4 linked regions of the Homo sapiens genome follow. The protein of the gene in region 2 purifies or fractionates together with the protein of the main gene of each other region. This does not show direct contact. Each region holds a gene or a part of one and is shown on either strand. Other genes may lie near its edges.

Region 1 (5,465 bases), on a different chromosome or scaffold from region 2:
AATACTACCTTTATCTTTTATTAAATCTGCACATATACTGGATTTCTGGATTCTCTATTTTATTCCACCAATCTATGACAATACCATATTAATCTGATTACAGAGGCTAGATACAATATTTTGGTAACAAAAGACACACCTCCTCACTAATCCTTTTCATGGTTTCCCTGGCTACACTGTGGCTGTAATGGAAAACATAAGTTTTCCATTTTTATTTTGTTTCAACCTTTCAAAAAGTTTTACTTCTTTTCAAGGGGAGGAGTTTTAGTTCTTATTTCAAGGGGAGGAGTTTTAGTTCTTATTTTCTGATATTAACACCATTATTCACTTTTACTGTTTTAATGCATTTACCAGAACCTCTTAAGACAATACTGAATACAAATGTGATCATGGGCATCCCCAAGTCCCCATCAAGTTTCTAATTTTAATGCTCTTGACATTTAGGATATTTGCTGTAACTTCCCTCTATTCTTACTTTACTTATTAGAAATGGTCTTGATGGGCTGGGCATGGTAGCTCACATCTGTAATCCCAGCAATTTGGGAGGCTGAGGCGGGTGGATCACAAGATCAGGAGTTTAAGACTAGCCTGGTCAATATGGTGAAACCCCATCTCTACTAAAAATACAAAAATTAGCCAGGCATGGTGGCAGGCGCCTGTAGTCCCAGCTACTCAGGAGACTGAGGCAGGAGAATCACTTTAACCCGGGAGGCAGAGGCTGCAGTGAGCCAAGATTGCGTCACTGCACTCCATCCTGGCGACACAGCGAGACTCCGTCTCAAAAAAAAAAAAAAAGAAATGGTCTTGATGAACTATGGCTAATATTGTATTTAGAAATTTTGCATTTCTGGGCATAAGTGAGACTGTTCTTTTTTGGCAGCATTCCTTCCCTCCCCCCCCCCCCCGTGCTTGAATCAGGATTGGCAGCATTTATCAGAGATAAAATATGTGTGCTTCACAGAATGCATTGACTAGCTTTGCATTCTTCATCATGGAAAAGAGAGTTCCTTTTTATTATAATGATGTGTTGTTCTTCATAAATGAAACTCAGCTGTGAAATTATATGCTATGCTGCCTCTGTCAAGAACCAATCTTCCATCATTTTTTCAAACCTTTCATGGGGATTGGGCAATTAACATTTTTACTTCTTGGGTCAATTTTACTCATTGACATTTTGCTATAACAACATCCATTTTCTCTTGAAATAACTTTGACAGTATAGCATTACATGTATATTCTCAAGAAAATCTGCAAAAGATTCCATTAATGTCTCCTGTATTTGGGGTCTATGGTGTTTACTCATTCCCAATCTTGTACATTTTTATTCCATATCTTTTTCTTCTACAAGATGTTTATCTAGATCATTGGTATTTGCAAAGAACCAGATTTGGGATTTATTTATCTTCTCCACTATTTTTGTTCTGATCTGTTTTCAATTCCATTAATATCCATATCCTACTTGCCTTTGGTTGTATTTTTTTATGTTTTTTGTTTTGTTTGTTTTTTTTTTTGGAGACGGAGTCTCGCTCTGCTGCCCAGGCTGGAGTGCAGTGGTACAATCTTGGCTCACTGCAACCTCCACCTCCCAGGTTCGTACGATTCTCTTGTCTCAGCCTCCCAAATAGCTGGGACTACAGGCGTGTGCCACCACGACTGGCTAATTTTTGTATTATTAGTAGAGATGGGATTTCACCATGTTGGCCAGGCTGATCTCAAACTCCTGACCTCAGGTGATCCACTCTCCTCAGCCTCCCAAAGTGCCGGAATTACAGGCATGAATCACTGCACCCAGCCTGGTTTTATTTTCTTAATCCCTAAAGATGAGTACTGAGCGCTTTGTTTACTGAAAGTATTTAAGCTATGTATTTTCCTCTAAAGTAAAAATTCTGCATTTGCCAATGAAATGTAGATGTTCTTCTCACTGCTTTTTAGGCAATACTATTTTGCCTCAGAGGAAAGAAATGGGATCAGAGGATTGAAAAGAAACTTCCAAGATAAATATTTTTTTCTAAAATCTCAAGCAAAAAATAAGATTAAAATAAATTCTCTCTGCTGATAGCTGAGATGAAAAAAAGAATAAAACATAAATACATTCTCTCTGCTCTGCTATTAATTTTGCATTATCTAAACAATTTAATAAGAATTGGCTGGGCAGGGCCAGGTGCGATGACTGTAATTCCAGAATTTTGGGAGGCCGAAGTAGGTGGATCACCTGAGTTCAGGAGTCTGAGACCAGCCTGGCCAACATGGCAAAACCCCTTCTTTACTAAAAATACAAAAATTAGCCGTGCATAGTGGTGGGTGCCTGTAATCCCAGCTACTCGGGAGGCTGAAGCAGGAGAATCACTTGAACCCAGGAGGCAGAGGTTGCAGTGAGCCGTGATCACGCCACTGCACACCAGCCTGGGCAACAGAGCAAGGCTCCATCTCCAAAAAAAGAAAGAAAGAAAGAATTGGCTGGGCAGCCACGCATGACAGCTCAGGTCTGTAATCCCAGCACTTTGGGAGGCCAAGGCGGGAAGATCATTTGAGCTGACGAGTTCAAGACCAGCCTGGGCAACATGGTGAAACCCCATCTCTCTACAGAAAATAGAAAAATCAGCCCAGCGTGGTGGTGCACACCTGTAGTTCCACTGAGGCAGGAGAATCCCTTGAGCCCAGGAGGCAAAGGTTGCAGTGAGCCAAGATTGCACCACTGCACTCCAGCCTGTGCAACACAGCAAGACCCTGACTTAAAAAAGAAAGAAAGAAAGAAAGAAAGAAAGAAAGAAAGAAAGAAAGAAAGAAAGAAAGAAAGAAAAAGGAAAAGAATTAGTGCATGTAAACAAAGGCTAACAATTTGTCCCAAGGATATTTAGTATCCCGTATAATACAATGCTATCAAAATAGAAAACCCTTAGTATTTTCTTTGCCTAGTTTTACTCAGTTTATTTACTAAGGTAATAAAATCATTCTTTTATTCCTTTATTTGACAAATGTTTATTGAGGGTAGGGCATTCAGATATAGTAGGGTAAGACAATGGGAGTTCTTAGCTACTTCAATTTCTTCTCAAATTGTACACCAAAAGAAAGAAGGCATGTATGCTTCCATTCTTGTCTGATAATTTAATCACAGGAGATGAGTATTAGACATTAGAAAAAAACAGAAAATGGTTGTATATGGAAATGCTATTGTCCAATCCACAGAAGTAGATTTTGCAAAACTAAGACTCCTGTAGAAGCTTGTGACTTACAAGTTGGAAATCACAAAGAGTGCACAAGATTTTATCTGTTTGTCCTTATCTTTGTAATCTTGTATCTGGCAGCTTTTTCCTCTATCTGCCACACTAACTGGACTACTGGAAGTTTTCTCACCAATAATGATGGCAGCAACACCAACTGAAAATTTTTCCAGATGAAAACGACTGCACTCACGCTCTATGATGTACAGCTCCGGTGGCTAAATTGCTCATCTGCATTAAAGTAAATGCAAAACTGCTTCTGGGCTGGGCATGGTGGCTCGCACCTGTAATCCCAGCACTTTAGGAGACTGAGGCGGGAGGACTGCTTGAACCCAGGAGTTCAAGACCAGCCTGGGCAACACGGCAATACCCTGTCTCTACCCCAAAAAAATACAAAAATTACCCAGGCCTGGTGGCATGCCCCTGCAGTCCCAGCTATTCAGGAGGCTGAGGTGGGAGGATCACCTGAGCCCAGGAGGCAGAAGTTGCATGCAGTGAGCTGTGATTGCACCACTGCACTCCCGCCTGAGTGACAGAGCTAGGCCTTGTCTCAAAAACAAAACAAAACTGCTTCTGAAGATATTACCTTTTTTTTTTTGAGACGGAGTCTTGCTCTGTCGCCCAGGCTTGAGTGCAGTGGCGCGATCTCAGCTCACTGCAAGCTCCACCTCCCGGGTTCACGCCATTCTCCTGCCTCAGCCTCCTGAGTAGCTGGGACTACAGGCACCCGCCATCACACCCAGCTAATTTTTTGTATTTCCAGTAGAGATGGGGTTTCACTGTGTTAGCCAGGATGGTCTCGATCTCTTGACCTCGTGATCCGCCCACCTCGGCCTCCCAAAGTGCTGGGATTACAGGCTTGAGCCACCGCGCCGCGCCCGAAGATATTACTTTTAAGGGGAGAATATTTTCGTAGTACAATCTCCAAATTCCAGGTTGAAATTCTGACCCCTTATCCTAATAGAAGATAATCAATCAGCTATTCAAATTTTAATATTAGGAAAAGTATAGGGAACCATGTTATTAGTACAATTTTTTTTTTTTTTGAGACAGAATTTCACTCTGTCGCCCAGGCTGGAGTGCAGTGGCGCAATCTCGGCTCACTTGCAACTTCTCCCTCCCAGGTTCAAGCAATTCTCATGCCTCAGTCACTTGAGTAGCTGGGATTACAAGCATGTGTCACCACATCCAGCTAAATTTTTGTATTTTTAGTAGAGACGGAGTTTCACCGTGTTACCCAGACTGGTCTCAAACTTCTGGCCTCAAGTGATCCACCCACCTCGGCCTCCCAAAGTGCTGGGATTACAGGAGTGAGCCACTGCGCCTGGCCTTAATATAATAATTACACATCAGGACATAGTTGGTAACCTAAGGAGCTTTTAATATTGAGAAACTGCCTGAATTCCATTGCCTAGTCTATTCCAAAAAGTAAAGCTCTTCATAAAAAGTCAGATTCACATTACAGAGAAAAAAAATTATGTCAGAAGGATTGGTAGCTATTTAATAGTTACATATAAGATTAATATGAATGCAGGAGGTCTTCACTAGCAGGTGTCAGAACTGCTCAATATTTTTAACAATAACCTGGATAAAGCTACAGAAGGCAGGCTAGTAAAATATAAACTTAAAATTATAAAAATAAGTTTTTAAAGAAAAATTAAACTATTTTTTAAAATAAGCTAAAATTGGCTGGGCGTGGTGGCTCACACCTGTAATCCCAGCACTTTGCGAGGCCGAGGCCGGTGGATCACCTGAGGTCAGGAGTTCATTACCAGCCTAGCCAACATGGTGAAACCCTGTCTCTACTAAAAACACAAAAAATTAGCAGGGCGTGGTGGTGTGCGTCTGTAGTCCTAGCTAGCTGGGAGGCTGAGGCATGGGAATTGCTGGAACCCGCGAAGAGGAGGTCGAAGTGAGCCAAGATCATGCCACTGCACTCCAGTCTGGGTGACAAGAGCAAAACTCCATCTCAAAAAATAAAAAATAAAAAAAATTAGCTAAAATTAACAGGACGAAATTTAATAATGATGGATGTGATATTCGACATTGGGATTCAAAGAATCAACCATATAAACTGAGACCAAAAAAGGGGGTCAGGTATTTGGATTCTAGACCCTTGAAGAAGTAGCAATTCCTACTCAATTAATCAACAGAACACTAGGTTTCAAGGTTTCAGAATAAAAAGAGTAACCAGTCTTGCTGGGTATGGTGGCTCACACCTGTAATCCCAGCACTCTGGGAGGC
Region 2 (7,459 bases):
TATAAAGCACCTAAAATTACCAGGCATTAAATTTGTCTCTGCAAATAAAGAAGTAAGGGGCAGCAACCCGCGTTACACAACTCCAAGAGGTACTGTGGGACCCCTAGCATTATATTCTATGTGACTGATGTATCCTAGATTTGGGAGATGGTGCCCTGACAGGGAGTTCACAGTCTGAAGATGACAGAAAGAGATAATACAAGGTAATATAAAATACAATGCTATAATGGAGGAATGTAGGAGACACTATGGAACAAAGAATATTGTCTCAGTATTAAACCCAGACTCGAGTCTTAAAAACAAAAATAGAAGTTAGGCATATAAGAGAGAAAGTATTCTAGTCTTCCAGAGGGAACACTCTAGAGGAAATAGCACATGGATACATAAAAGGGCATTTCTAGTGAGCTGGAAGTTCTATTTATTGTCTGATATTAGACAAAAAAACAAAATGTGTGAAGAAATAAGGTTGAGAGGTTGTTAGGGATCAGATTTTGAAGGGCTATACTGAGAATCTGGATATTCACCTTGAATGCAATGGTAGGTCAAAGATTTTAAAAGGGATATCTGGTTGAAGAAAAAGTTTTGAGCATATTTGTAAGTTAAAGGGGAAGGGTCAACTGAATAGGAGGCCCCGAAGAGAGAGGAGCAACTGCTTCAGAAAAGACAAAATGAGGCAATACATAGAGTAATGGTACATATTTATGAGTGAAACTGGATGAAACTAAGTAAGAATTTGGTATAAACATAGGTACGTTTGTCCAGGGGCAAGGATTTCAGGGAGCTCCAATCAAATGGGGCTCCATTTAGATATTTATTTTCTGTGAAACAAAGATAAGGTCATCTTCTGCATAAAAGGTAGCAAGAGAAAAACAAAAAATTTCAAAGACCGGCCAGGCCAGCAGCTCATGCCTGTAATCCCAGCACTTTGGGAGGCTGAAGCGGGTGGATCGCTTGAGGTCAGGAGTTCAAGACCAGCCTGGCCAACACGGTGAAACCCGTTTTCTACTAAAAATACAAAAATTAGCTGGGCGTGGTGACGTGTGCCTGTAATCCCAGCTACTTGGGAGGCTGAGGCATGAGAATCACTTGAACCCAGGAGGCGGAGGTTGCAGTGAGCCAGGATCACACCACTGCACTCCAGCCTGGGCAATAGAGCGAGACTCTGTCTCTAAATAAATAAATAAATAAATATGAAAGATCCACTGTAGGAAATGAGAAAGCTGACAAGTAAATATAAGAGGTCTGGCCCAGGTAAAGTTGTGTGATTTTCTAAAGCTGTAATTAGTAACCATGCAGTTAAGTTAGACTTTGGAAGAGATTCAGGATTGGGTTATTGTTCAATGGCATACCAGAAAAACAAGAGGAATTGCCAGAGGTGATTCTGGGATTCTACGATAGAGTATAAAATAGATAATAGAACTGAGAGATTTACAGAATAAATGATTAAGCTACCTCTTATTAATGCTAAACTGGATTATCTTTTAGTCTTCCAGACGAGGTTTATTCAAAGGAATTTTTCTGTTTACTATGAAGATGCTGAATAAGCACTATCTGGTGGGTAGAATAGATATACATGGATATTGGGAGAATCTCACAACAGATGAAGAGAAGGCAGGTCATGGGAAGGCACTCTGGAAGAAAAAGCTCACCTATCTAGAGATTCTTAAGAGAAGAAAAAGTGAAATGCTAAAGTGAATACTTCTTGGTTTTGCAAAGTATCAGCTGAGCCATATGAACAATGGTCAAGTTTGCCCTAGTGCTTAGCTTTCATTAAAATAAAACTTATAGATTCTATGTTTCTTAAACATCAGGGACTGTGTCTTCAAATCCTATTGCTGCTAAGTGCCTGATCATAGGTGGGGTTCAGTAAATGTTTTCTTGTGTGTGAAACTCTTTGAAACAATTTCAATTATTTCCTAATTTAGGATGACAAAGCAGCATAGGCCCCAGCAAAATTTAAGTTAGAATGCACAAAGGCCACAAGCTTGTTGGAAAACAATTACTACCTGATCTCAAAACATAAATGATCATATGAAATACACTGAGATAGAAAGGACATATGTTCCTATTTTACCTATGAAAAGAGGCACACACCAAAGGAAACATTATCCATTTTTATACAAAAAATAAAGACACAAACATAATGACATCAATGTTTCAACACTGTTTCATTTATTTATAATTTATGTAGAAATATTTATTTTTATTGTTCCTATAATAAAAATACTCTTTCAAATAATCGTAATGCTACTTACGTTTTAAAACTGGTTTTAAAATAAATTAGCCAAGATGTCTATATTTTGGAGAATGGCACAACCCTATTGATCTAAAGCAAAGACTGAAATACACACATAGACAATGACCTGTTATACTTTCCATTTCAGTTCAGGAAAGAAAAAAGAGTGTGAGTAAAGCACATCAAAACATTTTAGTCTACTGTGAATCAGTAGAATCCAAGTTTATTATATTTTAAGAAGACAATTCTGTTTATAACCAACACATCTTGGTTTAAAAATAAAAAAGTTCTAAAATTGACTGAAGTGAGTCATACCTGGTGAGATAATCAGCAATTTTAGGATTCTTAAGGAGATCCATCAGTAGGTCAACTGAATACTTTCTAGTTAGAGTGCCATCACCGTTTATGAGAATATTAAATATTAGTTGAAAAGTCTGATGAATGTTTCGAGCATGGAATAGCTTAAGGACAAATTAGAAAAAGCATATTAGACAAAAAATTAAGTTGACACCATCCTAAAAGGTAAAAATAAAAAAGTCTCAATGACTTTTAAAATATCAGACTATAAACTTCAGAATAAATTTGAAAAATTGTATTTACCTTTTCCCCCACCTCTTCATTTAATGTCAAACTGGATAATATTGAAAGTGCAAACACAACCACAGTTAAACTACTATGGGCCAACAAGGTGATAAGAGTTCGATAAAAAGATTTCACATTACTCTGAGGAAAAAAAAGTTAAAAAATAAATTAGAATTATAAATTTTATGTTTTGGTTTAAAAAGTATATCTTGCACAGAGTGGGCAAACTTTTATTAAACATCATTATCAACTCTATTAAATGATTGTTGCATTTAAAAGATAAATGTTCTACAGGAGAAATTTAGATCAGAGATAAATTTAAATTCAAAAATTGTTATAAAGAGAGTACCTACAGAAAAAAATAATTTGGTAAATGCGTGCAAACGAGTTGGAGATAAATATTTCCAAAGTTTTGTCACCTTAGAATAAATAATTCAATGATGGTAAATCAGGGTGTCAATTCTAATAAAGGGACACATGCAGAGTGGAAACAAAAGAGCTACCTTAAATACTGCAGGATTTGTGTTAACAAAAGAACTGTAGCATTTGTTAGCATTTGTGTTAACAAAAGAACTGTAATGAGGAACTCTCATAATTGTGGTGGAAGCAAAAAAAATTCAGCAAATTTAAGAATTTGTTTTACGTTACACACCGTGGAGCAGCAATTAACTTTGCCATATTTGCTGATTAGCATTTAGATTTAAGAGATCACTGCATGTGTGAGCAAGATGGGTAGTTTCGTATATTGCTGACAGTCATATAGATAGCCACAATCTTGGTGAAGAGCAGTTTCTACACATGAAACTATGAGCAAATGTTTATTCTTCCTTATATTTAAGTGTTTCCTAAATATGAACATATGAACTTTTTTTTCAATTCAGAAATTGAAACACACACACACACACACACACACACACACACACACAGTTACTCCACCTCCAAAGTAAGACCAGGGCAGAAAAATGTAGCACTTGAACAAGTGAGATATTAAATTTAAAATCGAACGGGTAATGCTGAATAGCACAGCAGGGAAATTGTTCACCAAGCACCTTAAAGAATCAGTGACTTGCTTGATTTAATATACTTTGTTTTTTTTTTTAAGGATGGAGTCTTACTCTGTTGCCAGGCTGGAGGGCAGTGGCGCGATCTCAGCTCACTCCAACCTCCACCTCCCGGGTTCAAGCAATTCCCCTGCCTCAGCTTCCCAAGTAGCTGGGACTACAGGCGTGTGCCACCACGCCTGGCTAATTTTTTGTATTTTGGTAGAGACAGGGTTCACCATGTTGGCCGAGATGGTCTCCATCTCCTGACCTTGTGATCTGCCTGCCTTGGCCTCCAAAGTGCTGGGATTACAGGTGTGAGCCACCATGCCCAGCTGATTTAATATACTTCTAAAAGTGATTCAGTTAAATTCATTTGTGTGTCTTCATTTATCACAAGTACTGTTGGTTCATACTGAGCACTTAACTCATGAATCTTTCTGGTGGGGTTGCCATTGATTTTGTGGAAACACAAGACTGAGATAAATGGGACTGCCAGTGATGTGCCTCCCTTCTAAGAGCACAAAATAATTTAGTAATTCTTGTACTACTCAATGTAATAAATAATGGGATGCCATGCTGAGGAAAACTTTTAGAAATAAGTGTTTGCATTAACCCTTAACACACAGTCTTCAATACAACATACACGAAGGCTGAAGTGCTTCAAGTTATTTGTATGTCAATCTGACTCTTAATTTTGATGGGTCATCCGATAAGACACAGAATCCTTGTTCAAATTTGTTTTAAAGAAAAAGATAAATACAATTTTCTTTAAGCAGAGAATCTACCATAAAACAAGAAACATTAAAAAGAAATAAACTTCTTACCAATGTCTTTATGTGCGTTTGAACAGAAAGATTGTGCCGACAAAGATTTGCCAATAATCCTAGACAAGGCATTTTTAACTCATCTTCAGAAGATTGACTGTTGTTTTACATTGGTGTTTTGTTTAAAGAAAAAATAGTAAAAGAAAAAAAGCATTAACATTATTCTAAGTCAAAATGATATAGTTAAGTTTATACATTTCAATTCCCTTTTACACGCAAAAAAAAAAACTAATTAACATAAGAAGCCAGGGAAGCTTTGAATAGTATTGATCATTTATCTCATTTTAAAACCAAATTACCCTATTCAATTCCATCATGAAAACATGGAAGTAACTGTCAGCGTGGACCATGTGCTGTTTCATCAGTATATTTTCCTACAAGAATAACTACACAATTTTCAATTTCAGTAATTTTTTTCTGGCCAAATCAATTCAGTCCATAAATTTTTCTTATGAAAATTAAAGTTGCTTTACAATTTTTTTTTCCTTTTTACATTTTTTCACCAATGAATGAGGTCACATACTTTTACAACTTTTGATCCTTAAAATCATCTGGGCAGAACAAATAAGAATCGGAGTCTCACTCAGTTTATATGTTAGAAAATGTTATCTAAGAAAAATTAATCTACCACATGGTTGTAATTTAAAAATAAACAAATAAACTATTTGGTTTTATGTTTGATTGCATACTCACATGTGATCTATCAGGAACGTAATTAATTCATCTATATTGGCACCAGAATAGAAAATTTTGACATTATATGTTAACTTCTGTAGAAGTTGAATGCACTGAGAATAAGAAAATAGTTATAAATATAAAGATATAAAAACATTGCCTGCTTAAAATAATGGACTCTCAGGCACATTCTGAGCATGTCCTTTTCCATTTCCTAAAACAATTTTTTTAAAAAACACATGTAAAGTAATGTAAGAACCTTAGGGCTCTTCTCTCAATTCACACATTTCTACGTATTCTGTCTCAGAGCATGGTTATCAACCTTGTTCACTTAGTCATCTTAAACTTGAATGCAGTTTGAAACACACATGTAGTCCATCAATTAGAAGATACCCTTCTTCACATTTTATCACCTCTAAAACTGCATGTCAATTTAATTTGTGATGTTTTTCTTTCTTACAATTGATGACATTTTAGAGTCAATGAAATATGAAGAGCTTTGAATCTATATTAAATAGACTCTATCTACAGCTTTAATTTTTGTAGAACGTTTCCTCCACAGATTGAGACTAGATGCCAACTCACGTTACAATTTTAATATAAATAGCTTATGTCTCAAAACACAGACATCTGTGTTTATAAGTCAAAGCAGTTATAATGTAGATTTGTTTTTCTTCAATAGTGGTGATAGAAATGGATAAGCTTCTCTTCTCTAGAAACATTTAAATTGTATGTGTGCAACCAGCTTTTAATGAGATGAACTGTGCCTAATCATGTAGTATTTATTATATAGCATATATACACTGTAAGTCAGCAGTTTATGACAGAAACTATCAATTTTGATCTGACAGTAAGGAAAGGGGAATACACTGTGTGGGTCTGTATACCTGCAAAAACACCGAATCAGTGTGGCTGCTCCGACAAACCACTCCCGCCAGCACACTATTCAGATTATATGTATTCTGAAGACAATCTCTGGTTTCAATGTCTACTGCTATAAGTTAAAATAAAAGCACAAAATATATCATTTTCTTACAAGGTTTTGCAGATAATTCATACAGAATTTATTTCATATGAATTTATTATTAAAAAAGGTATGATATGGCTATTTTCTTATTTTCTTTATGATAACCCTCCAATTCAGAAATTCAAATGATTTCTCTATGTAAAATAAACTAGTATCAAAGAAAAAACTTGTTTACACATTTGTAGCAAGCTTTTTCTTTGATACTAATTATTTTAGTATCAAATTAAAATCATTTACTTTGAATATTAAAAGATTATCACTTTATGGTATATTTACACAATGGAATACTATTTGGCCATATAAAAGAATGCATGCCATTTGCAGCAACACGGATGGAACTGAAGGCCATTAGGTTAAGTGAAATAAGCCAGACACAGAAAGAAAAATATTGCATGTATTCATTCATGTGTAGGAGCTAAAAAAGTTGATCTCATGGAAGTGGAGAATGACAGTTACCAGAGGCTGGGAAGAATATGGGTGAGTGTGTGGTGATGGGAGGTGTGAGGGGGAGCCGTTAGTGGGGGAGATGAAGACAGATTGATTAATGGATATAAACACACAATCAGATGGAATAAGTTCTAATGTTTGATAGTAGAGTAAGGTGACTATAGTTAACAATGTATTGTATATTTCAAAATATGACTTGAAATGTTCTAAATACATAGAAATGATAAATCCTCATTTGTGATGGATATCCTAAATACCCTCAATTGATCATCACATACTTTATGCAGGTAACAAAATATCATATGTACCCCATAAGTTTGTATAAATATTATGTATCTGTGAAAAAATTAATTTAAAAAGATTATCATTTCAATTTTTCTGGAAACCTCAAATGCTTCTAAAGTATAAACACTGGAAGTGACTGGCATATTCATTCAAACTGTTGGTGGATGTTAGAAGTGGAAGAATCTTTTCAGAAAGCAATTTAGTAACGGTTATCAAATTTTAGAATGATCTAGAAATTCTAATGGAATTTATCTAATAGAAACACACTAATATTTGAGCAAAATTACATAGAATGTTCACTGCACTATTGATTCCAATAGCAAAAACTTAAAGACAGTTG
Region 3 (8,454 bases), on a different chromosome or scaffold from region 2:
CTTCTTTCTGCCAGGGACAGATGGGTTAGGGATTGTGGAATTCAAGTAAACGTAGAGCTACTATGAGTTACAGATTGACTGTGTTCCTGTCTTTAATAAATTTGCCAAGAGTGGTTATAAGAACTTACACCTGATGAGGCACCAGGCTCCTGATGCTGTGTAATGTCACAAAATACCCCTCACTCTCGATCTGTGCAAGAGAACAGCTGGTTGCGCTCCAATCATGTTACATAACCTACGGCAAGGTATCGACAGGATCATACTCCTGTAAAATAGAACTTTGTTGATCACATCCTGTGTACTTGTTTCACGGACATGAGGAGCAATTACAACAGGTCGTACAATTATGGCAAAATAATGGCCTTATTTTGTTTTTAGCTTCAGCGAGAACCCAGACCTTTCCCAAAGCTCAGGATTCTTCGAAAAGTTGAGAAAATTGATGACTTCAAAGCTGAAGACTTTCAGATTGAAGGGTACAATCCGCATCCAACTATTAAAATGGAAATGGCTGTTTAGGGTGCTTTCAAAGGAGCTCGAAGGATATTGTCAGTCTTTAGGGGTTGGGCTGGATGCCGAGGTAAAAGTTCTTTTTGCTCTAAAAGAAAAAGGAACTAGGTCAAAAATCTGTCCGTGACCTATCAGTTATTAATTTTTAAGGATGTTGCCACTGGCAAATGTAACTGTGCCAGTTCTTTCCATAATAAAAGGCTTTGAGTTAACTCACTGAGGGTATCTGACAATGCTGAGGTTATGAACAAAGTGAGGAGAATGAAATGTATGTGCTCTTAGCAAAAACATGTATGTGCATTTCAATCCCACGTACTTATAAAGAAGGTTGGTGAATTTCACAAGCTATTTTTGGAATATTTTTAGAATATTTTAAGAATTTCACAAGCTATTCCCTCAAATCTGAGGGAGCTGAGTAACACCATCGATCATGATGTAGAGTGTGGTTATGAACTTTAAAGTTATAGTTGTTTTATATGTTGCTATAATAAAGAAGTGTTCTGCATTCGTCCACGCTTTGTTCATTCTGTACTGCCACTTATCTGCTCAGTTCCTTCCTAAAATAGATTAAAGAACTCTCCTTAAGTAAACATGTGCTGTATTCTGGTTTGGATGCTACTTAAAAGAGTATATTTTAGAAATAATAGTGAATATATTTTGCCCTATTTTTCTCATTTTAACTGCATCTTATCCTCAAAATATAATGACCATTTAGGATAGAGTTTTTTTTTTTTTTTTTTAAACTTTTATAACCTTAAAGGGTTATTTTAAAATAATCTATGGACTACCATTTTGCCCTCATTAGCTTCAGCATGGTGTGACTTCTCTAATAATATGCTTAGATTAAGCAAGGAAAAGATGCAAAACCACTTCGGGGTTAATCAGTGAAATATTTTTCCCTTCGTTGCATACCAGATACCCCCGGTGTTGCACGACTATTTTTATTCTGCTAATTTATGACAAGTGTTAAACAGAACAAGGAATTATTCCAACAAGTTATGCAACATGTTGCTTATTTTCAAATTACAGTTTAATGTCTAGGTGCCAGCCCTTGATATAGCTATTTTTGTAAGAACATCCTCCTGGACTTTGGGTTAGTTAAATCTAAACTTATTTAAGGATTAAGTAGGATAACGTGCATTGATTTGCTAAAAGAATCAAGTAATAATTACTTAGCTGATTCCTGAGGGTGGTATGACTTCTAGCTGAACTCATCTTGATCGGTAGGATTTTTTAAATCCATTTTTGTAAAACTATTTCCAAGAAATTTTAAGCCCTTTCACTTCAGAAAGAAAAAAGTTGTTGGGGCTGAGCACTTAATTTTCTTGAGCAGGAAGGAGTTTCTTCCAAACTTCACCATCTGGATACTGGTGTTTCTTTACAGATTCCTCCTTCATTTCTGTTGAGTAGCCGGGATCCTATCAAAGACCAAAAAAATGAGTCCTGTTAACAACCACCTGGAACAAAAACAGATTTTATGCATTTATGCTGCTCCAAGAAATGCTTTTACGTCTAAGCCAGAGGCAATTAATTAATTTTTTTTTTTTTGACATGGAGTCACTGTCCGTTGCCCAGGCTGCAGTGCAGTGGCGCAATCTTGGCTCACTGCAACCTCCACCTCCCAGGTTCAAGTGATTCTCCTGCCTCAGCCTCCCATGTAGCTGGGATCACAGGCACCTGCCACCATGCCCGGCTAATTTTTTGTATTTTTTGTAGAGACAGGGTTTCACCATGTTGGCCAGGCTGGTCTCAAACACCTGACCTCAAATGATCCACCTGCCTCAGCCTCCCAAAGTGTTGGGATTACAGGCGTAAGCCACCATGCCCAGCCCTGAATTAATATTTTTAAAATAAGTTTGGAGACTGTTGGAAATAATAGGGCAGAGGAACATATTTTACTGGCTACTTGCCAGAGTTAGTTAACTCATCAAACTCTTTGATAATAGTTTGACCTCTGTTGGTGAAAATGAGCCATGATCTCTTGAACATGATCAGAATAAATGGCCCCAGCCACACAATTGTAGTCCAAACTTTTTAGGTCACTAACTTGCTAGATGGTGCCAGGTTTTTTTGCACAAGGAGTGCAAATGTTAAGATCTCCACTAGTGAGGAAAGGCTAGTATTACAGAAGCCTTGTCAGAGGCAATTGAACCTCCAAGCCCTGGCCCTCAGGCCTGAGGATTTTGATACAGACAAACTGAAGAACCGTTTGTTAGTGGATATTGCAAACAAACAGGAGTCAAAGCTTGGTGCTCCACAGTCTAGTTCACGAGACAGGCGTGGCAGTGGCTGGCAGCATCTCTTCTACAGGGGCCCTCAGGCCACAGCTTACCTTGGGAGGCATGTAGGAAGCCCGCTGGATCATCACGGGATACTTGAAATGCTCATGCAGGTGGTCAACATACTCACACACCCTAGGAGGAGGGAATCAGATCGGGGCAATGATGCCTGAAGTCAGATTATTCACGTGGTGCTAACTTAAAGCAGAAGGAGCGAGTACCACTCAATTGACAGTGTTGGCCAAGGCTTAGCTGTGTTACCATGCGTTTCTAGGCAAGTCCCTAAACCTCTGTGCCTCAGGTCCTTTTCTTCTAAAATATAGCAATGTGAGGTGGGGACTTTGATGACATGAACACACGAAGTCCCTCTAGAGGTTTTGTGGTGCCCTTTAAAAGGGATCAATTCAGACTCTGTAAATATCCAGAATTATTTGGGTTCCTCTGGTCAAAAGTCAGATGAATAGATTAAAATCACCACATTTTGTGATCTATTTTTCAAGAAGCGTTTGTATTTTTTCACATGGCTGCAGCAGCTGCCAGGGGCTTGGGGTTTTTTTGGCAGGTAGGGTTGGGAGGGCCATTTTGTCACTGCCTCAGCTGGGCATCTAGGAAGCATTAGCACTGTGAGGCTTTCTCGGTACACTTTGTACCTGGAAAACAATCCGAACAGGTCCATGGGACCACAACTGAGGGAGGTGGGACACACCCACCTCCATCCAAGAACCAAGACATCTAAGGAAGCAAACCCAGATGCAGAACAATAAAATACATTCCATACTCCCCACCCAAAAAATAAAATCACCAAATGAGGTTCCTTTCAGCTATACAAATGATTTAGATGAAGAGCAGAGGATTTAGAATCAGGTCAATCTGTGTTCAGGTTCTGCGTCAGCCACTTTGTAGTTCTGAGGCTTGGGGCAAGTGACCGAGCTCTGCTGCCTGACTTCCATCGCCTGTTATTGAACAGCTGTGACAGGCAGGCTGATATGGTTTGGATTTGTTTTGGATTTGTGTCCCTGCCCAAATCTCATGTTGAACTGTAATCCCCAGTGTTGGCAGCAGGGCCTGCTGGGAGGTGATTGGATCATGGGAAGTGGTCCTTCATGAATGGTTTGGCACCCGTTCCTTGGTGCTGTTCGAGATAGTTATCACAAGATCTGTTGTTTAAAAGTGTGTAGCACCTTCCCCCCTCACTCTCTCTTCCTCCTGCTCTTGGCCATAAGAAGTGCTTGTTCCCCCTTCACCTTCCATCATGATTGTAAGTTTCCAGAAGCTGAGCAGAAGCCGCTATGCTTCCCGTGCAGCCTGCAGAACTGTAAGCCAATTAAACCTCTTTTCTTTATAAATTACCCAGTCTCAGGTATTTCTTTATAGCAGTGCAAGAATAGACTAATACAGTATAAAATAGTTCGGCTATATTAAAAGACAGCACCTGTCTACTCACTACCCCCCTGAAGAGAAAAACGGTTACCATTATTACTGAAGCCTCCTATGTACCCTCAAGGGTCCCATTTATCACTCACAGTCCTGAATTTGGTGTTTCCCTTTCCCAGTGAATGCTTTTGTGCCTTTGCTATATACTTGCAGTGATCTTTCTGTGAGACATTTAATTCCAGGAGACAAGAAAAGTGGAATAAGCAAAACCCTACGTGTGCAGATGACTGGAAGGAGATTGTCCTAATTTAAAAGCCCACCTGGGGCGTTCTGAGAAATAAGATGAAATAAATGTGTGTCTAGACCATGGAAGACTCCAGTACTGGGAAGAGGAGATGGGACAGAAGTACAGAATACACGTGATGAAAACAGGAGCTGGTTAAGGGAGTAGTGTGGCTGCAAGCCTTACCTTCAATGTACTTAAAAAATAAAGTGAGTCAGCTACCAGACCCTATCTTAGGAGGCAAAATGACCGTTCATTGGTGGGTCTCTGTGAAAGCAAAACCAACTCCGCCTGAGAGTTATAGGACATGCCAGCGGACAAGGTCTTAGTGTGTTCTGGTCATGAAGGCAGAATTTACAAGCTCTGGCCTGGATTGAGGGACCCTACTGAAACAGAAAGTATTAATGCCACATTACTGACCTATTTTCAAGGCTTGCAGAAACTGATATGTAGTCAAATATAATCAGGTGCTGCACCAGTTCACAGAGGCCAACTCCACCAGCATGGGGGCAAACAGGAACTAAAAGGAAATCGTTTCTATTTAATACCAAGAGTAGGGCAGGGAGAGGAAGGGGTGAAAGGGAACTTTCTGGTTTTTCTTATTGCCCACAGGTGATTAAATCATTTATTAATATTTAGGAAGGAAATTCCAAGATGAAAATCATCAAAAATTCCCGGATTAAAGCTAAATGAGAGTTAGAAAAAAATCGAAATGGCAAACTACAGACTCCCATGCATGTGAATTGCAAACCATCAAGGGAGGTGTCTGATTAGTGGGGAAATGAAGGTCTGGTCTGCAGCCGCTGCAGCACGCTTACTTTCAAACTTTTTGGCCATCAGCAATACTGAGAGGTTCTCATTGACACTGCCCAGTCTGCAACTGTCAATCTGGAGGAACTGCAGGGCCTTCGCCTGTAGGAGTTGCTTAAATATCACTCTATTGTGGCACTGGAAATAGAATTGAAAATAACACCAACAGAAGAGTCAGCCTTGGCCTTCAGGATCTCTAAACCTGGCAACGCAGCCACTCTATGCCAATAATTATTCATCAGTGGCCGTCAGGAAGCCCAGACTGTATTTCTTCTTTGTTCTCGCTGGGCATGAGGCGAGCTTTTATAGCGTGGGCAGGGACCTTGTGCTCACTTCTTTACAAATCTGCTAATGCAACAGTGTGAGTCAGGTCAAAATCACACTGGCTCGCCATTTATGAGGGAATGACTGTCACAGCGACTGATAAGTGGGAGATGAAGCATCAGGATGAAATACGGTGACAGTGATGAGCAGGTGGCACAGATGACAACACGGAACCACGGCAGAGCAGTATTGCTCCTTTTGCCGGGAAAACTGAGAATCAGCTCCTCACGCTGCTCTGCTCGTGGGCTGACTGCAGCAGGTTTTGGCAGGCACTCGGGCTTCATTTATAAGCTCAAAAAGTGAACGCAGTCATGTTTATTCAATTTGAAAGCTGGCTTTCTTAAGACCATTTTCTGCCCTTGCAATAGCAACTTTAAATTGCTGCCTTTTCAATTTCAATTAGACACTTTGAAAAAGATACCCGACCTTAGTCATATAAATTGGAGAAATAGCCACAAACTTTTTCTATATCTGACTCTAGACTCTGATAAAATGACCCAGTTTCTAAGATGATGAAAATTTCCCAACTCAAAGTACAGCAGGTGATGGAGCCTAACACACAACTGTGTCCTCGGTCACTGGTCAGCGTGTACTGACCCCAAGGGGACGTCATCCACCTGTTGGGGGCGTCACTCACCTGTTCTCCTGTGGCAATGCCAATTCCTAATGGGACCAGTGCCTATAAAATAGAAGGCAGCCTGGTGTTATTTTCCTAAGTTTTGAACTGCAACTCCTAATGTTTAAAAACATTTATAGCTGAAGGAGGAAACGGCCCTGCTGTTAAGCCATGTGAAGGCTCAAGACTGGCAAAGGATGTCCAGGGGAACACATGCGTGCGGGAGGGCTCTGTGTATCTGCAGAGGAGAAGGTGAGCACTGCTGAGCTGCCACCACCAGCCCCGTTCCTGACCAGGGCTCTGCAGATCTCCTTCTGCGGTGTCCCGGCCCATGCTCCAGCTGCGCTCCTCCCAACGTGGACAGCACCTCCCTCTCCAGCCTGCGCAGTGGCATAAGGACAGGGCTATTCGGAGTGGCTCATTGTGGACTCACAGGGTCCAACCTTTGGACGACTCCTTCCTGTGGGTCATCACTCCATCAATTCCCTTCTTCTTGCCTCCCTGAGAAACCTCCTTCTAGAACCCTCTCATATCTTTTTTTTTTTTTTTTTTTGAGACCGAGTCTTGCTCTGTCACCCAAGCTGGAGTGCAGTGGCATGATCTTAGCTCACCGCAACCTCCACCCCCCAGGCTGAAGCGATTCTCGTGCCTCAGCCTCCTGAGTAGCTGGGATTAGAGGTGCACGCCACCATGCTGGCTAATTTTTGTATTTTTAATAGAGTCAGGGTTTTGCCATGTTGGCCAGGCTGGTCTCAAACTCCTGACCTCAGATGATCCTCCCGCCTCGGCCTCCCAAAGTGTTGGGATTACAGGTGTGAGCCACTGCACCTGGCCTCATGTCTTTGTTGATTCCAAAATCCTCTTCCTTAAGGCAGGAAAAATCCATGAAAAAAAAAAAAATCCTCTTCCTTCCAGCTCAGTGGGTGGCCTCAGACCTCAATCTGCAGGTTAGGCTGAGACCATTGCTCACCTGGTAGAGTCCTCACCTGGTGAGGTACTGGACTCTGCACCTGAACACAGCCCTGCTGCTCTCTGTCCTCTCACCTGGCCCCTGAACACTACCTCCGTCACCTGCCACCTGGACTCTGGGCGCTCCCATCCATCCTCTACTGTGACTGCGACTCCACAGCTACTCCGCACAGGTAGCCTTGGTTCCTCCCTGGCTTCCCTTCCCTTTGCTTAGGGTAATAGTAATCACACTGACAGCTAACATTTTTGGAGCTCTGAGTACCTGTCAGGTGCTGTGCAAAACACTGACTTAAATGATTCCTGGTCTCAATCCAATGGGAGAGGAGCCAGCGTTATCCCCATTTTATAAAAAATGATAAAACTGTGTGCCGGGTTTGAACTGTTCCTGGATCACAAAGCTAGAAAGTGGTAGAGACTGGGTTGGAACTCCACTGATTCCAGAGCCAGAGGAGGCATCTGAATAATCAGACTAAGCCAACTTCTCAGCAGAAAAATCCCTTCACTCAGCAGCCAAGTATCCCTGATTCCGGTGCTGGCCCCGCATCTCACGGGATGTGTGGCCTTGGGCAAGCCCCGCCTGTGCCACCCAAAGCCTCGGCCTCCTCATCTGCAGAAGGCCTTAGTTTGAGCAGATGGTCTCTAAGGCACCTTTTCAAGCCAACATTTTATGCTTCTTAAAATTTCTAATTTAAGTACTCTTGGTTATTTATCTCCAAAGAGAAGAGAAAGGGAGAAACGGAGGAAGGGGGAGGAGGAAAGGCCATTTGACTTATTTGTTCTACCATTTTAAGCATATATGGCAGACTAGGGGCCAAATGTTTTTCCTCCTTTTCAATATTTCCTGAATCTGCTCTATTCAAGCTGCCCTCTCCCTTTATCTCTCTCAGATTCCTGGAAAAGCCTCCTCGCTCCCATCCCTGCCTGGGTTTCTCCCTGCCCATTCCTCACCTCCCACACACCCTCTGTCTCAATGGACTCTACATGTAGCCACCAGTCACATTATCTGTGCTTCAGCTGTCACTATGCTGTTGTGTTTTTTTTTTTTTTTTTTTTTTGAGATGGAGTATTGCTCTGTCGCCCAGGCTGGAGTGCAATGGCGCAAACTTGGCTTACCGTAACCTCCACTTCCCAGGCTCAAGCCATTCTCCTGCCTCAGCCTCCTGAGTAGCTGGGATTACAGGCACACATCACCGCGCCCTGCTAATTTTTTTTTTTTTTCTGAGATGGAGTCTCGCTCTGTCACCCAGGCTGGAGTGCAGTGGTGCGATTTTGGCTCACTGCAAGCTCCTCCT
Region 4 (8,454 bases), on a different chromosome or scaffold from region 2:
CAAGAAACTTTCCTTGATTACAACAGCCCTACAAAGATCTTTCTTCTTTGAACACCTACAACTCTTAGAGTCTCTACTATACAATTTAGTAGCTTATTAAGTATGTAATTAAATTTTCTATTTGCTTCAACATATGTTCACATCCATTTGTTTCCTCCAGTGAACTACTAGCAGCTATTAAATTCTTTTGTGTAACCTTCTGCATACCTAGCTCCAATCATTATTAAATGACACACTGGATTAAAATAGATAAAAGAAGCAGAACAATAATAAACACTGTAATTTCATCCCTGTGCCAGTTTTTCCTACAAAGAATGTAATTCAAGTGGGGTTTTTTTTGTTTTGTTGTTGTTGTTGTTGTTGTTTCACAATACAGAACCAATCTCAGTCTATAAAACAGCTTAGTCTTAAGGACATATAAGTGCATACATCTTGACTCGCTTCTATGTTTAAGATTTTTGTCATGGTACTGTATTGTAATGAAGTTCTTCAGAAGTTCCTTAAATAAATTTTTACCCCAAAAATCCTCTCATTTGCCTCCAAAACTACTTTTATCAACTAATTGTGTCAAAACTAAGTACCATACATCATATCCTAATGTGAAAAGGCTAAATCTTCCAATCATTAAGTCACATTTTTGAAGGAGCCAGTTAATTAAAACAATAGGCCTCCAGGCCATCCTAAGGTCACCATCCTTTTCTGGGACACCTTCCCATTACCAGATAGATAGTTCATGAAGTAAAGGAATTAAGCAACTCTACTGCTTACTCCACTACATTTTAAATGCAGGACTCAAGACATTTAATACTCAATCTAAACTCAATTCCACTACTGTACTATTTGAGCCAATAGACTTTAGGACAAGAAAGTCTCCTCGGTGGCTCGTTAAAAATAGATCACCTGCCAGACCCCTGAGATTCTGATTTTTTAAATAATGCTAACTCACCGCCACTCATCCGCCCCAGGTGATCAGACAAAGCTGGTTTAGAGAGCTACTGATCTTTAAATCATTATATAAGAATCACTTCGAATTTGTTAAAACACAGACTCCTGGTCCCCATGAATGTGCATTCTAACAAGCTCCTAGGCAATAATGTTGCTATTGGCCCACCTAGACCAGGTTTGCCCTGCTAATACTGGTGTTTAGTTACCTTCTTGCTCTTGCAGATTGTTAATGATGCTATTAGTGCAGGAGAAATTCTCAAGTCATGATATTTGAGCCAGTGGGTCCACAGAGATAAAACGTTTAAATTCATCAATGAATTTCTACATAGTGTTTAATATGATACATTGTTATCTTTACTTTTTCTAAAGACCTGGAAAATACCACAAAACAAACATGGTATCCAAAATGCTAAATAAATTCAAATTTTAAATATTTACCTTTACTAATTAATCCTTGAGTAATCAACATACTTGTTGCAGCCAAAGGCACAGCTATAGGAAGAAAAAGACCTTGTTAACATCAACAAAAGTAAAAGATTTTGTCTAAAGTTCATTAGATAAATGAATAGCAGTAAAACCATCTAGGAATTATATTGCATAACTAAGACCTTTAAAAAAGACTGTTCCATTTTTAAAAGCTGTACTGTATACATAGTGGAAAAATTAAAGGAGCATTTTAAATTTAAGAAAACATCACAAAATATTAAACAATATAATTCATGAACCATCTAGGCTTAGGTTCCAAATAGCCAGCTGTTCATCAACAGCATCAACTAAGACAACACAGTAAAAGTGACTCAAAATTACTTCTGAAGTAAGAGAAGGGGAAAAAGTTAATGAAGGAGAGGTAAGAAACAAGTTACAAGTAAGAACCACTACTGAGTAATGACTAAATTCTGTGCATCATGCTAAGCGCCTTATGTGCATTATCTCATTTATTATACTTTTTATCATATTTCTATAAGGTAGATAATGTTATTACCACCCTTTTAAAGATAAGGAAACTGAAGCTTAGAGATGTTAAGTAATTTGCTCAAGGCCAAACAACTAGTTGAATGGTTGGTTACAGATTCTAATAAAATCTGTCTGATACCAGATCTCAAGCTTTTAAGCTCTAGTATACCATCTAAACCAAAATACAAAACATATTTGACCGTAATCATACGGTGGCTGGGGCAAAAATTAAAAAGCACATATTTTAAACACTTATGTTCTTTCTTCTAAACTAGTGAACTCCTTAAACTATATGAAAATATTACATCTATATATATATATGCCTAAAACCGAGAGTGAAAAATCCAAAACTCATAATCTCAAAGGGGGCTATAACTTAAAAACAGCTATGAATCACTGTTCTTTACACCAGCACTGTCTAACAGAATTTTTTATGATAATGGAAGTTGGTCTTTGAGTGACCAACCCTGTGATCAATTTGGTCTTGGTACTTGACTGGTAAACAGTTCCCCCCATTGATATGCGTAATTGGCTCACTGTGCCCAAACTGTTTGTACAAATACAGTTCATGCCAAACATCTGCTTTCATTCTAGGAGTCTGGAATTTTGGTACCTGTTAGGCAGAGGGTGAATAAGTGACCAGCCCCCAATAAAAACTGTGGGCACTGAGTCTCTAATGAGTTCCCCGGGTAGATACAACTTCACACATTGTTATGACTAGCTGTTGGAGAAATTTACACTCCCTGGGAAGAGAACTCTTGGGACCTGGTTTCCGCCGGACTTCACCCCATGCTCCCTTTCCTTTTATGATTTTGCTTTATATCCTTTCACTGCAAGTTATTTTAAAGTTAAATTGCTACATGTGACTACTGGCTGCCACACTGGACAGTGCTGTTCCAGACCTGAGGTTGGCAAACACGTTCTATGAAGAGCCAGATGGTAAATATTTTGGGTTTTGTGGGCCAATCTCTGTCCCAGTTACTCAATTGCCGTTTTAAAGCAAAAGCACCGAAAGACAATCCAAAAACACATGAACGTAGCTGTGTTCCAACAAAACTTTATTTTTAGATGCAAACATATGAATTTCATGTAATTTCACACGTAATGAAATATTCTTTTCCTTTGATTTCTTAACCATTTTATCTTATTTTATGTTTTTAGACAAAGTCTCACTCTATCACCAAGGCTGGAATGCAGTGGTACAATCTCATCTCACTGCAGCCTCAACCTGCCGGCTCAGATGATCCTCCTGCTTCAGCCTCCCAAGTGGTTGGGACTACAGGCATGCACCGCCATGCCTGGCTAATTTTTTGTCTTTTTTCTTTTTTTTTTTTTTTTTTGTAGAGATGAGGTTTCGCCAAGTTGCCCAGGCTGGTCTCGATCTCCTTGGTTCAAGTAATCAGCCCACCTCAGCCTCCCAAAGTGCTGGGATTACAGGCGTGAGCCACTGCACCCAGCCTCTTAACCATTTAAAAATGTAAAAACAATTCTTAGCTCATGCATACAAAAACAGATTTGGTCCATGGGCTAGTTTGTTCAACTCTGGTCTAAACCATATATGGACAATTTAAGAACCAAAGTAATTAAGACATTTGAATTATTACAGATTTCATGATTAAAATCCATCACTTTGGAATAGGGCATTAACTTTGCCATCACACACAAATTGCACAAACGCTAAGGTCTGAATTCATGCTATCCTACTTACTAACAGATTTTACCTTTGCTGGAAATATGGTTTCTTTAATGTTGGCTAGTTAGAATGCCTTCATGCATTATCATTTATCATTTAAGGTTTTGCAAAGGACAAATCCCTTTTAATTACAGCACCAGTACAATTTGCAATCATTTTTCTCCAGCTTGACTCAAGGATTGCAACATGAAGCACTGAAGAATCATATAAGAATAAAAGGCAATGAGTTAGCTGGCCATTTCTACAATGGATAATGCTTTCCCCATTTAATGCAGAGTAATAGTCTGTTCGAGGAGATTCTAGTACTAGTTCTGCCATTCACCACAATGTCTTTGCATAGCTTCTTCTCATGCTATAAAGGAATAATGGATTAGACCTAAGGTCTCATTCCAACTCAGGTATTCTACTTTATGTCACAGAAAAAGACAATGGTAAGACTGAAAGAGGCTTCAGAGATTATCTAGTCCTCATTCCAATCTGAGTACACTAATATCCAGAAAAGACAAGTCATTTGCTCAAAGCAACACAGCTGGTTAGTTTGTGGTAATGCTGAGATCAGAACCCAAGTCTCCTGACTCCCTAGTCAGTGGCCTTTTCCACTACAGTATGTAATATCTATTTTGTTAAATAATCTGTCTCTATAGGCAAATCAGTAATACTGCTGACCAAAACCTAGTGCACATTATTACCACAGTCCCAAACTATATTCAATATATACAAGAATCCCTACAATTATTTGAACTCTTCTCCCCTCACAGTAACAAAAAGCTACTCTATATTCCTAACTGTAGTCAATAAAAATTTTTATTTCATTAATCATAATAACACTAATAGCTATTTAATAAAGATAGCCAACACTTAATTAAATTGCATTAATCCCTATAATAATTTCATGAGCTAGGCAGTTATCCCCATTTTATAGATAAGAAAAGTATAGCACAGACCTCAGGAACTTGTCCAAAATCTCACAGCTACTGTGTGTGGAGCTGGGATTTGAATCCAGCCAATCAGGCCTCAGAGTCCATACTCTTTTTTTTTTTTTTTTGAGATGAAGTCTCGCTTTGTCACCCAGGCTGGAGTGCAATGTCACAATCCTGACTCAATGCAACCTCTGCCTCCCGAGTTCAAGCCATTCTCCTGCCTCAGCCTCCCAAGAAGCTGGGACTACAGGCATGTGCCACCACACCTGGCTAATTTTTGTATTTTTAGTAGAGACAGGGTTTCACCATGTTAGCCAGGCTGGTCTTGAACTCTTGACCTCAAGTGATCCACCCACCTCGGCCTCTCAAAATGCTGGGATTACAGGTGTGAGCCACCATGCCTGGCCCATACTCTTATCACTCTTATACTGTATCATTTGAAAACTAGTAGTACACATATATGAAATATTATTCATAGACTCCAGCTGATACAAATATGAACTGATACATCTTTTTAGTAATTCTGGAGTTTGAGAACTATTTTAACATGAATATGCAATAAACTGACCCTATATGCACAGGGTCTTCACTACCTGTGTGTTTGGGCACAGACATAGTGATTTTAGGTCAGTGCATAGGGTCACGATTTTAAGCACCTAGAAATAAGATGCCTTCATAGTTATATTTCAGATTAATGGAATGTAGGTCAGTATAGAAACATAGTTATCTTAAGGAAAGAGAATGGTCCCTAGATCAACAAGTCTAATTTTAGAAGAGGATAAGTATTTTAACAGACCTAAAAAATGTATAAAAAATTACCTTAGTAAGTGCTTTTTTATAAATTCGTAAATGCTTTTATCACCTTTTTCTAATCCAAGGTGATACTCTCCAAAGTAACAGATGCCATTATTTGTTTACATAAATGTCACATACAGCATAGACTATCTAATTCGAAAGTACAAATGTTAAAGTACAAAATTTCCTATGTATGATTATCATCCTTCTGATAATTATACGTTGAACTTCCTATCACCTGGTTACAACCAAGCTTCTACATTTCAATGTTTGATGCTATAATATGCAACAACACCTTGGTTATCTGTTTTGAGAGTGAAATGCTACCTATTAATACAGTAATTTTTTGGCTGCTGTAATTTCTCAGTAATGTAGATATGGTATAAAATTAACAAGCTGTCTTTCAGCCTGTCCTTATCACATGCTTTTTGTCTTTTTTTTTTTTTTTGAGATGGAGTCTCGCTCTGTCGCCCAGGCTGGAGTGCAGTGGCACGATCTTGGCTTGCTGCAACCTCTGCCTCCCGGGTTCAAGCGATTCTCCTGTCTCAGCCTCTCGAGTAGCTGGAATTACAGGCACCTGCCACCATGCTCAGCTAATTTTTGTATTCTTAGTAGAGACGGGGTTTCACCATATAGGTCAGGCTGGTCTCGAACTCCTGACCTCAGGTGATCTGCCTGCCTCAGCCTCCCAAAGTGCTGGGATTACAGGTGTGAGCCACCAAGCCCAGCCGCTTTTTGTCTTTTCAACCTGTGATTTATCTGTTTTAATGCACAGAAATCACTTAGCTTTGTACTGTTCATATACCACATGTCCCACTATTAAGAGTCTGGTATACACGGGCATCCTGACATTGTTCACTACCCTTTAATGTACTTTTGGCATAAACCTGTCACAGCTATTTAGATTGTTAAACACCTGCAGCAGCATACATTTATCAGCCAGAAATAAATCTGGACACCTTAGCATCTATTTAACCGTTAGCCCAACACTACAATAATCCCAAATCCCCTCTATCACACTTGCCTTTTTCTTAATCCTGTGTCATCAAGACTTAAAAATAGATCATTTTATCCTATCTACTCTATATAATCTTCAAAGATTTAAAAAAAAAAAAAAAAAAAAGAACTGTTGCTGGAGTATACAGCCAAGTTCTCTAAGAAATTCTTCCCATTCTGGCCAGGCACAGTGGCTCATGCTTGTAATCCCAGAACTTTGTGAGGCCGAGGTGGGCAGATCACAAGGTCAGGAGCTCGAGACCAGCCTGGCCAACATGGTGAAACTCCTTCTCTACCAAAAATACAAAAATTAGCTGAGCATGGTGGCAGGCGCCTATAAGCCCAGCTACTTGGGAAGCTGAGGCAGGAGAATTGCTTGAACCCAGGAGGCAGGGGTTGCAGTGAGCCAAGACTGTGCCATTGCATTCCAGCCTGGGCAACAAGAGTGAAACCCAGTCACAAAAAAAAGAACACCGAAAAAAGAAAAAAAAACAAAAAAAAAAAAACGATGGCTTACGTCTGTAATCCCAGCACTTTGGGAGGCCGAGGCAGGTGGATCACAAGGTCAGGAGATGGAGACCATCCTGGTTAACACGGTGAAACCCCATCTCTAGTAAAAATACAAAAAAAAATAGCCAGGTATGGTGGCAGGCGCCTGTAATCCCAGCTACTCGGGAGGCTGAGGCAGGAGAATGGTATGAACCCAGGAGGCGGAGCTTGCAGTGAGCCAAGATTGCACCACCGTACTCCAGCCTGGGGGATAGAGCGAGACTCCGTCTCAAAAAAAAAGAAAGAAATTATTCCCATTCTAATGAGCCATGAAAATTTTATAGAAGCCCTTACTTTATGATGACTATGCATCTATAACAATTATTCTCAACTCGTTCCAGTTATTCTGCTCCCAGTTGAGAATAACTGTTTTAGATGCATAGTCATCATAAATTTAAAATGGACATCATCACCTAATTCTTATTCAGGTTCTTTCTAGCTTGAAATACCTGCAAGTCTCTGAATATTGGTGGATAAAATGACAAAGATTCTATCAGAGCTCCTCTATCTTCCTAACTGCTCTTGGTCTTTGTTGATTCTTTCACTATCACTTGTTCCCTTATCCATGGGTACTATCCAAACTTTATCCTTTATTCTATCAATCCTAAGTATTAATCACAGGGCAGAAACTATTATCAGTTTTATGCTTTTATCTCTACACTTAATTTATTGGCGAATTCACCAACACAACTCCACAATAAACTAATTTTTCATGTATGCTTTTGTTTCTATCTGTAGTTGCTTAGAAATCTTCGACAATCGAATGTTGCACCATGAACTCAAAACGTCTGAACTAAACTCATCTTCAAACAAGAACTCCTTCTAAATGAACCTTTTATTCAGAGGTATCATTGAGTCTCCTAAGCTGGTTATCTTAAAGCTATTACCTCCCTCTTACCATTCCTTCATTCCCCCTTAGTCGAACTTTTTAAAAAATCCTTTTATTTGTCCTTTAAAAAGTCTTTCGTTGCCAGCTCATCTTTTCCAGTCCAAATGACACACTAATCAACTATATCTCATCGTTGACTACATATATATGCCTAAGTTACTGCCAAAAGCTCAAAACAGATTTTACCAAGTACAACTTCTCACCCTTCTACCCATCTTGCACACTGTTAACTAACCTTCCTTAAAAAAAACCTTACATATCACCCCCCTCTGCTCAAGAACCTAAACGATATAATGGATCAAACCTTTAACTCATTACTATGTTTTACGTTCTATCCTCAATGAAAGACCTCTGTTCCAATCAATTCAGGCTCACCGCTCCAGCAGAGATGAAGTTATTGCAAACTCTGCCTTTGTTCACTACTCCTTTCTTCCAAATGCTACTCCACCTTTCCTCTTCACTTATCTACTTATTAACTATTAATTCTTTTGTTGTTGTTGTTGGGGGATTAGGGACAGGGTCTCACTATGTTGCCAAGGCTGGTCTCAAACTCCTGGTCTCAGGCGATCCTCCTGCCTCAACCACCCAATGTGCTGGGGCCAGGTTCAGTGGCTCATGCTTGAAATTCCACCATTTGGGGAGGCCAAGGCAGGCAGATCGCTTGAACTCAGGGGTTCAAGATTAGCCTGGGCAACATGGCAAAACCTAGTATC

The links.
Region 1: the proteins of CIP2A (region 2) and USP33 purify together in Homo sapiens (co-immunoprecipitation; one large-scale study listed by IntAct). This does not show direct contact.
Region 3: the proteins of CIP2A (region 2) and ENOSF1 purify together in Homo sapiens (affinity purification with mass spectrometry; one large-scale study listed by BioGRID and IntAct). This does not show direct contact.
Region 4: the proteins of CIP2A (region 2) and OCIAD1 purify together in Homo sapiens (co-immunoprecipitation; one large-scale study listed by IntAct). This does not show direct contact.

What each region holds. Positions count from the first base shown.
Region 1 is NC_000001.11:77,747,888-77,753,352, forward strand, and holds part of USP33 (ubiquitin carboxyl-terminal hydrolase 33), read right to left. Parts: intron 1-5,465. UniProt on the Homo sapiens protein: Deubiquitinating enzyme involved in various processes such as centrosome duplication, cellular migration and beta-2 adrenergic receptor/ADRB2 recycling.
Region 2 is NC_000003.12:108,576,730-108,584,188, forward strand, and holds part of CIP2A (protein CIP2A), read right to left. Parts: intron 6,355-7,459; coding exon 6,248-6,354; intron 5,474-6,247; coding exon 5,379-5,473; intron 4,783-5,378; coding exon 4,686-4,782; intron 2,960-4,685; coding exon 2,837-2,959; intron 2,698-2,836; coding exon 2,552-2,697; intron 1-2,551.
Region 3 is NC_000018.10:672,482-680,935, forward strand, and holds part of ENOSF1 (mitochondrial enolase superfamily member 1), read right to left. Parts: intron 6,257-8,454; coding exon 6,215-6,256; intron 5,392-6,214; coding exon 5,262-5,391; intron 4,964-5,261; coding exon 4,864-4,963; intron 2,922-4,863; coding exon 2,840-2,921; intron 1,926-2,839; coding exon 1,824-1,925; 3' UTR 517-1,823; coding exon of another isoform or gene 379-516; 3' UTR 1-378. Other genes in the region: TYMS (thymidylate synthase), read left to right, coding at 379-516. UniProt on the Homo sapiens protein: Plays a role in the catabolism of L-fucose, a sugar that is part of the carbohydrates that are attached to cellular glycoproteins.
Region 4 is NC_000004.12:48,835,619-48,844,072, reverse strand, and holds part of OCIAD1 (OCIA domain-containing protein 1), read right to left. Parts: intron 1,438-8,454; coding exon 1,384-1,437; intron 1-1,383. UniProt on the Homo sapiens protein: Maintains stem cell potency. Increases STAT3 phosphorylation and controls ERK phosphorylation. May act as a scaffold, increasing STAT3 recruitment onto endosomes. Involved in integrin-mediated cancer cell adhesion and colony formation in ovarian cancer.